2 separate regions of the Homo sapiens genome follow, and region 2 is reported to be linked to region 1. Evidence: microRNA targets listed by miRTarBase, many of them from high-throughput screens and not tested one by one. Region 1 holds a microRNA gene; the other region holds the end of a gene's coding sequence.
Evidence for each region. The annotated mature microRNA hsa-miR-4497 reads CUCCGGGACGGCUGGGC and lies in region 1 at 1,457-1,473, opposite strand. An mRNA with a match to its seed (bases 2 to 7 or 8) in the 3' UTR can be bound and repressed. Matches are read on the target gene's strand: a 7mer-m8 pairs with bases 2 to 8, a 7mer-A1 pairs with bases 2 to 7 and ends in A, and an 8mer does both.

Region 2: the mRNA of MTPAP is a reported target of hsa-miR-4497. Seed matches in the 3' UTR shown: 7mer-m8 at 2,069-2,075.

The regions. Positions count from the first base shown.
Region 1 is chr12:109,830,756-109,834,822 of GRCh38, reverse strand. MIR4497 (microRNA 4497) reads right to left here and starts at 1,475; the gene lies at 1,387-1,475. TRPV4 (transient receptor potential cation channel subfamily V member 4) reads left to right here and starts at 1,425. Exons shown (of 16, transcript NM_021625.5): 1 at 1,425-1,473.
Region 2 is chr10:30,309,989-30,314,044 of GRCh38, forward strand. MTPAP (mitochondrial poly(A) polymerase) reads right to left here. Exons shown (of 9, transcript NM_018109.4): 9 at 1-3,983. The coding sequence ends at 3,621. Among named protein-coding and RNA genes, the nearest start is that of MTPAP, 37 kb to the right of the region's middle.

The DNA of each region.
Region 1 (4,067 bases):
AGGTGAGGACTTTTGTATGCCCCACTCTACAGGGGGATGTAGAGGCACTGAGGCACAAAGGTGAAGGGACTTGCATAGGGCTGCTGGGTTAGAGAGTCACAGAGCCAAGCTGTGGGCCTGCTAGGCTTTCCAACCACCCTGGAGGAAGTGAGCTGCCCATCCTGTGGAGGTATTCAAGTGGACTCAGTGCTGGGTAGAGGGTATGGCTATGTGTTGGGGCCCACCTTTGTTATCTGATAAAAGAAAATACATGGGTAGGTGTGGTGGCTCATGCCTATACTCTCAGTGCTTTGGGAGACTGAAGTGGGAGGATCACTTGAGGCCAGGAGTTGTAGACCGGCTGCCCTCCCCCACCCCCCCTTCTACAAAAAAATAAAAATTAGTGGGGTGTGGTGGCGCATGCCTGTACTCCCAGCTGCTCAGGAGGCTGAGGTGGGAGGATCTCTTGAGGCCAGGAGTTTGAGGCTGTAGTGAGCCGTGATCATGCCACTGCACTTCAACCTGGGTGACAAAGGGAGAACATGTATCAAAAATAATAATAATAATAAAAAAAATAAACAAAAACGCATTGAGCCAGGCACGGTGACTCAGACCTCTAATCCCAGCACTTTGGGAGGCCGAGGTGGGTAGATCGCTTGAGCCTGGAGTTTGAGACCAGCCTAGGCAACATAGTGAGACCCTATCTCTGCAAAAAATTTAAATAAAATTAGCCAAGCATGGTGGTAGGCGTCTGTGGTCTCAGTTACTAGGGAGGCTGATACGGGAGGATTGCTTGAACGCTGGTGGTTGAGGCTGCAGTGATTCCTGATCACGCCACCGCACTCCAGCCTGGGCAACAGAGTGAGACCCTGTCTCAAAAACAACAGCAACAAAACATTGATGGCCTACTCCGAGGCAGGCTTCGCAGTAAGCACTGGGTGAAGACCAAGGAGAGCAGCTCACATTTATTTACCCCTGAACCATCTCTATGGGCCATACCCGAGGGTAGGGACCTCCTTCAACGCCTCGGAGGAAATTGTCTGCTGAATGAATGAATGAGCAAACACGTGGAGGACTGGGCCGGGACGCCCATTTAGAGACTAGGACACAGTCCCAGGGCGGCCCGAAGTCACGGAGCAAGATCGAATCGGAGCCGATTCCAACTAGAGCCCTCTCCAAAGACCGTCTGCCGCTCTATCCGGGGATCGCGACACCCATTTTCCAGGCGAGGAAACTGAGGCCCTGGCCCTGCACCTCCCCCGCAGGGGAGGCCCTCGCTGGGCGGGCGGGGTGCGAGTAGGGGCCGCCCCTTCTAGGGCCTGCGCTCGGCGGGGTCCGCGAGCCGGCGGGTGGGCGGGGAGCTGGCCGGGGGCGGCGCGCGGCTGGAACCTGAGCCGGCGGAGGAGGGACCCGCGGGCGGACGGGCGCCGGGCGGGCCGGCCGGGATTCAGGAAGCGCGGATCTCCCGGCCGCCGGCGCCCAGCCGTCCCGGAGGTAAGTGGGGCCCGGGCCCGGGAGGGGCGGCTCAGCCGAGGTCCCCTCGCGCCCCTGGGGACATCTCCGTGGCCCGTCCGGCTCCGGGGGGTCCCGAGGCTCCAAAATGCGGGCCAGGGGCGCGGGAGACGGAAGGCACCAGGTTCCGCAGGCGCCAGCCTCTCAGCTAAGTGCCCTTGGGCCGGACACCGGCTCTTTGGGTCTCGGTTTTATCACCTGTGAAATGGGCACCAACGTGGGGCCTGGGGTAGCAGGTCTGGGGGGAGGGCGGTTCGGTTCCCTGAGACCCCAAGCCAGGGAACCAAAGGCCCGGAGCCTTGCAGCCCACCTTAGGAGACTTGGAAGAGGGATTTCGGGGGACCTAAGGTTTGCCCTTGGCCCCTGAGCATGTCGGAGGGAATTTGGAGTCTGGAGCTTCCAAAGGCTTCTTCTTGGTTACTGAGTCCCGGAGAGACGGCTGTTTCCTCCAAGAGGCATGAAAATCTTTAACCTCTAGTTCTGCCCTGGACTCTCAGGACGTCCCGGGGGCGGGTGGCTCCTGGGGGTGGGTAGCGGGGGTGGGGGTGGGGGAGAGAGAGACTCCCACACTCCCCGCTTGCCTGGAAACACCAACCACAGATGCATTCATCGAGCCACCCACTGCTCCAGCCTGCCCCAGCTGTTCCCTCTGTCTGTCCTCTCTGTTTTGCAGATGGGGAAACTGAGGCTTAGGTCGGGGATCTAGACAATTGGGATTTAAACCCAGGGACTATCCAGCCCCAAAGCCCTTCCCACCACACCAGGTGGCCTGTCCTGGGGCCAGCTCTGCACACAGGGCCTGGTGCCCCCGGGGTGCTTGGGAAGTGGCAGGGCAGAGGTGGGCCCTGTGGCTGTTCTGGCTCAGCTTCTAAAACAAGAGCCTCTGCTGGGGGCAGAGGGGCCGTGAACCCCTGAAATGTTAGGCAGATACCCTGTGGGAGCTTTGTTCTGGGATGCTAAGAACCGCTTGAGGATTTAAGCTTTGCCACTTTGGCTCCGGAGCAAGGGCAGAGGGTAAGTCGGGACTCCCCGGGCTCCTGAGGAGGGTGACGAGGTGGGCTTTTGGGGGAACAAGGGTAGAAAGGTCAGGCCTGGGTTATCTGCGGGGCTAAGAGCGGGCCTGTGTGGGGCCCGGGGTGTGCTCTGCAGTCCCCTGCTGTGTGACCTTGGCCTGGTCCCTTAGCTGTCTGAGCCTTTGTGTTCTCTCCTCTGTAATACTGGGGTGCCTGAGGGCAAGCCCCCAGGGCTGTCGTGAGGACCGATGACCTTCCAGGAACCTGGCACAGCCACTGTTGGCTGCCATCAATGTTTAACCAGTTGTCGTTGCCCCAAACATTTTCTTAACAAAGAGGGTGAAAAAAGTCAATTGGCCATTTCCACATTTCTCTAGTTCATTCTGTTTGAAGAATGATGGGAACCAGAAAGCCTGGACACCCACCTTGATTGGTGAATTGCACGCGGAAGGGGTCCCAGACACAAATGGCAAATGGCAGTCATAGTTCAGGGCGGTTCACTTTGTAAGATCAAGGTGGGGCTGTTTTGAAATGGAGGTAACCAGGGAATGGTTGCCTGAACAAAAAGGGTGTGATGCCCCCAGGAGGGATGTTTCACATGAGCTCCGGTGAGGATGGCTGGGATTCCCCAGGTGAAACCCAGATACCTTATATCTGGGGAAGGGGCTGTGGAGGTTCCTCCTGCCTTATCTGGTGCCAACTGGGCCTCTGCCACTTACTCCCTCCTCCAGCAAATGCTCTCTGCAAGCTCACCTGTGCCAGCTCTGGGCTGGGCACTGGAGCAGTGAGATGCTTCCAATCCCAGCTTCGCTGTAGCCTGAGGCGTGTGAAGGCAAGAAGGATTTTCCCTTGTGGCCCCCCGGGGAGGAGCTCCCACACCTGACTTGTGAGCATCTAGCAAGGTGTGCATGGATGGCCGACGCTTAGTAAATGTATGCTGTGGAATGGATGGGGTCAGGGGAGAATGCCGTAGGGTAGGAGGACTGGCCCAGGAAGGACCCACGAGGGCTTGGTCAAGGTAGTGTTTAAGCCGCACCTTAAAGAATAAATGCAGAAGTAGAGGAAAGAGTATTCAGGCAAAGAGAATGGCACTAGCAGAGATATGACTTTTACCTGTTACCAGGTGGCTACACCTGGGGTTTATAGAGCAGAGAAATAGTTCTGTTTGTCTGGAGTTTGTGACGTGACTGGAAAGGGTGAGGGATCAGACAGGCAGGAGCTAAATCAGACCCAGAGGCCCAGAAGTCCTGCCTGGGAGTGACACGGTTGTTTGTCTGTTCTAGAAAGGTCCCTGTGGCTGCAGAGTGGGAAAGATTGGAGGAGCTCAGACAGAGAGGCTGGCCCCAAGGCTGGGGAAGTCATCCAAGCTCTGAGTGGAGAGCGGCAGCTGGAAGGAGATGTAGGAGGGAAGGAAACACACAAGACTGAGCCTCATGTGCCTGGCACATAGTAGGTGCTCAGTCAGTATCTATGGCATGGTTGTCTGAACAAATACTTTTGAGATGGTCAAAGTCCTTTGAGTTCCTTCCTCTGTTCCTAGGGGGATGGGGTCTACATGAAGTG
Region 2 (4,056 bases), not on the chromosome of region 1:
ATCGTTTTGATCTGGGTAGTCTCCTATCAAAATTACTTTCACATACTTAGTAAAACTCATTACAGGTGAAAGCTACTGAATGAAAGCCTAGTAATAGTTATAGAAGAAAAAAACTTGAAAAAAGTTTTACTTAACATTGCAATTATTTTTAATTAAGAAACAGCAATGACAAATAATTGCTAGTTATCACTATCACGTAATAAAAATATTTTAAAAATCTGGGTTGTGATACACTAAAGTTATGAGAAAATATATTTGTCTGTAGTCTATATTCAGTTGAACAGACTTTAAAACTGTGTATTAAAAGGTCTTTGCAGCCAGGCGTGGTGGCTCATGCCTGTAATCCCAGCATTTTGGGAGGGCGAGGTGGGCAGGTCACCTGAGGTCAGGAGTTCGAGACCAGCCTGGCCAACAGAGTAAAACCCCATCTCTACTAAAAATAGAAAACTTAGCCAGGTGTGGTGGCATGCACCTGTAATCCCAGCTACTCAGGAGGCTGAGGCAGAAGAATCACCTGAACCCGGGAAGTGGAGGTTTCAGTGAGCCAAGATCACTGCACTCTCCAGCCTGGGTGACAGAGGGAGACCCATCTCAAAAAAAAAAAAAAAAAAGGGTCTTTGTAGGCCAGGTGCGGTGGCTCACACCTGTAACCTGTAATCCCAGCACTTTGAGAGGCTGAGACAGGTAGATCACTTGAGGTCAGGAATTCAAGACCAGCCTGGCCAACATGGTGAAACCCCGTCTCTACTAACATACAAAAATTAGCTAGGCATGGTGGCAGGCGCCTGTAATCCCAGTTACTTGGGAGGCTGGGGCAGGAGTATCGCTTGAACCCAGGAGGCAGAGGTTGCAGTGAGCCGAGATCGCACCACTGCAGTCTAGCCTGGGTGACAGAGCAAGATTTGCTCTCAAAAAAAAAAACAAAAAACAAGTCTTTGTAGATTTAAAATTAATCACATAATTAAATCTGATTCTGAAAAGTAAAACAGCCTAGTGTCAAGGCTGTCCTACAAATTACCAAAAAGAAAAGAAAATGCTAACCCATACACATACTTTATGTGCTTAAATAACCATATTACACCTAGCACCAACCTAAAAAAGAAAATATCTGACTAAATATCTGTGAACAGAAAAAAAAATTTCATTTAGAAACCCTTAAGTGGTTTATGCTTTTTAAGCTTTTTAAATCAATATGGATTTCTAGCCCAACAAAATAAAGAACAAATGAAAAATGGCTTTTAAAGACATCGCCTGTACAGAACACTGATATTTGTTGGTGTCAAATGTGCAATCCAATAGCACAGACACAAGGACACAGAATTCATTTGCTTCATAACAATGCTGAGTTTCTTAAAATATCCCATGCAGAACCCATTATAATTTCTGACATAAAATTTAAATGGGAAAAATTTTTAAAGTACTACAAACTCTAAATCTGAATTTTGAGTAGCAAAAAAGGTAATTACATACCACAAACACCGAAAGGCAACAGTTAAAGAGAAGTAACATTTACTTCGCGCCAGGAAAATGCACTGACCTAGCATTTTCCTACATCCCTCGCTTAATCCTCACATTGATCTGATCATGATCCCCATTTTACAGATCAAACAGGGGCCCCAAGAGACTGAGTAACTTGTCATTGAGCCAGTCTCGCTCAAGTCTGTTTTTAAACACTATACTACTTGCTTCTTTTCCTTTGAGAGAGTCTCACTGTCGCCCAGGATGGAGTACAGTGCTGTGATCTCAGCTCACTGCAGCCTCTGCCTCCCAGGTTCAAGCAGTCCTTGTGCCTCGGCCTCCCAAGTACCTGGGACTACAGGCATGTGCCGCTATGCCCAGGCCTTACTTGCTTCTTAAATAGAAAGTTACTCCACAGAAGCCAGGTGCAGTGGCTCACGCCTGTAATTCCAACACTTTGGAAGGCCAAGGTGGGCGATCACCTGAGGTCAGGAGTTCGAGATCAGCCTGGCCAACATGGTGAAACCCTGTCCCTACTAAAACTACAAAAATTAGCTGGGCTTGGTGGTGGGCGCCTGTAATCCCAGCTGAGGCAGGAGAATCACTTGAATCCGGGAGGCGGAGGTTGCAGTGAGCTGAGATTGTGCCATTGCACCCCAGCCTGGGCAACAAGAGCAAAACTCCGTCTCAGAAACAAAACGAAACAAAGCAAAAAAGTTGCTCCACAGAGAATGTAATGGAAATTAAATTTCAATATACAGTTGCCCATTGAACAACATGGGTTTCAACTGCGAAGTCCATTTACACACAGATTTTTTCCAACCAAACTTGGATTGAAAATACAGTATTCTCGGCCAGGCATGGTGGCTCACGCTTGTAATCCCAGCACTTTGGGAGGTTGAGGTGGGCTGATCACGAGGTCGGGAGATCGAGACCATGGTGAAACCCTGTCTCTACTAAAAATACAAAAAAATTGTCCGGGCGTGGTGGCGGGCACCTATAGTCCCAGCTACTCAGAGAGGCTGAGGCAGGAGAATGGCGTGAACCTGGGAGGCAGAGCTTGCAGTGAGCCGAGATTGCGCCACTGCACTCTAGCCTGGGCGACAGAGCGAGACTCTGTCTCAAAAAAAAAAAAAAAAAAAAAAGAAAGAAAGAAAATACAGTACTTTCACAGGATGCAAAATCTGCTTATGTGCAAGGTGGAATTCTCCCATGCACGGGCTCCACAGGACTGAAGGAGTTCAGTGTGTGCAGATCTGGGTGTACGTGGATGGTCCTGGAACCAATTTTCTGCATATACTGAGAGACAAATATGTCTCTTTCCTGCAGGAAGAGGGGAGTTCTCAAAAGAGATGTGAAGGAATACTGGGAATATCACATTTTAGTTAGAAACAGAATTTTATTTTTGAAAATAGAAAAATCAAACAATATTTTTAAAATGCAATCTATTGATGTCATCATATTTGGTTTGGAATACCTAAGAATGCAGTGACTGAAATGTCTGTTCTAAAAACATAAACATTTTTTGATATCAGTACCAACCCACTTTAATTTATATGTGAATAAGAGAACTTCGCTTGAAAAATACAAATATACATATTCGAGAGCACTACCAAATTTTGAAGCTTAATGTATTCATTGCCAACGTACTGTACATAACTAAAAGTCATTTTAAATGTTTTCTAAACAGGGACTGATGTGGATATCAACAATGGTTTCATCCTAAAACTGAGTTTTAGCATTTGTTTAGTATATTTACCTATTTAGTTAAAGCACATTACAATAATCTTTCACCCATTCCTTGTGGCTTATGTTTATTTTCATTTTTTTTAGAGATGGAATCTTGCTATGTTGTCCACGATGGATTCAAAATCCTGGGCTCAAGAGATCCTCCTGCCTCAGCCTCCTGAGCAGCTGGGACTACAGGTGTGCACCGCCACACTCCACAGCTGATGTTTTAATAAAGTGCCACTGAGTATCAGACTGATCAAACTGAAAACATCCCAGAACTTCAGACCAGGTTAAGGGGGCCAATGAGAAGATCATGAAAAGTGACATCAGATGAAAGCTGAGATCTGTGAAAGTTTCAAATCAGTTTTTCCAAGTAAGTCCACAGACCATTTGATAGGCTAAGCCCAGTTCTTTACACAATGTAGCAGCCATCATGTCTGAGTACTAATTGTTCTCTTCCCACTGGTTTTTGTGAAATTTTCTGTTCTGTTACCTTTTAAAGATTCTAGCAAGTTTTTGACTGTTTCAATTGCAAACTTATTGCTTTTCTTCTTGGTAAAGGACTTTCTGTTTGGAGCAGATGGTAGCAATAGGGATACCAGCCCCCAGGGCCGATTACTTGATATGGAAGGTCGATCTGTATCTTCCTGTTGTAAAATCCAGGCACTTTCTCGGGCCAAATCTACAAATTTTTGCAGCTGGCTTTGACTTACATTTTTGCTTATGTTGAGAGAAGTTTCAAATGGATTCTGAATGTACAGAGGAGAAGAATCAGGTTTGTTTTGCTCCCTTCCCTATAGATTATTACACAGAAGAAAAAATGAGTAAGTACATGAAGGGCTTAAATATAAAAACAGTTAACTCAAT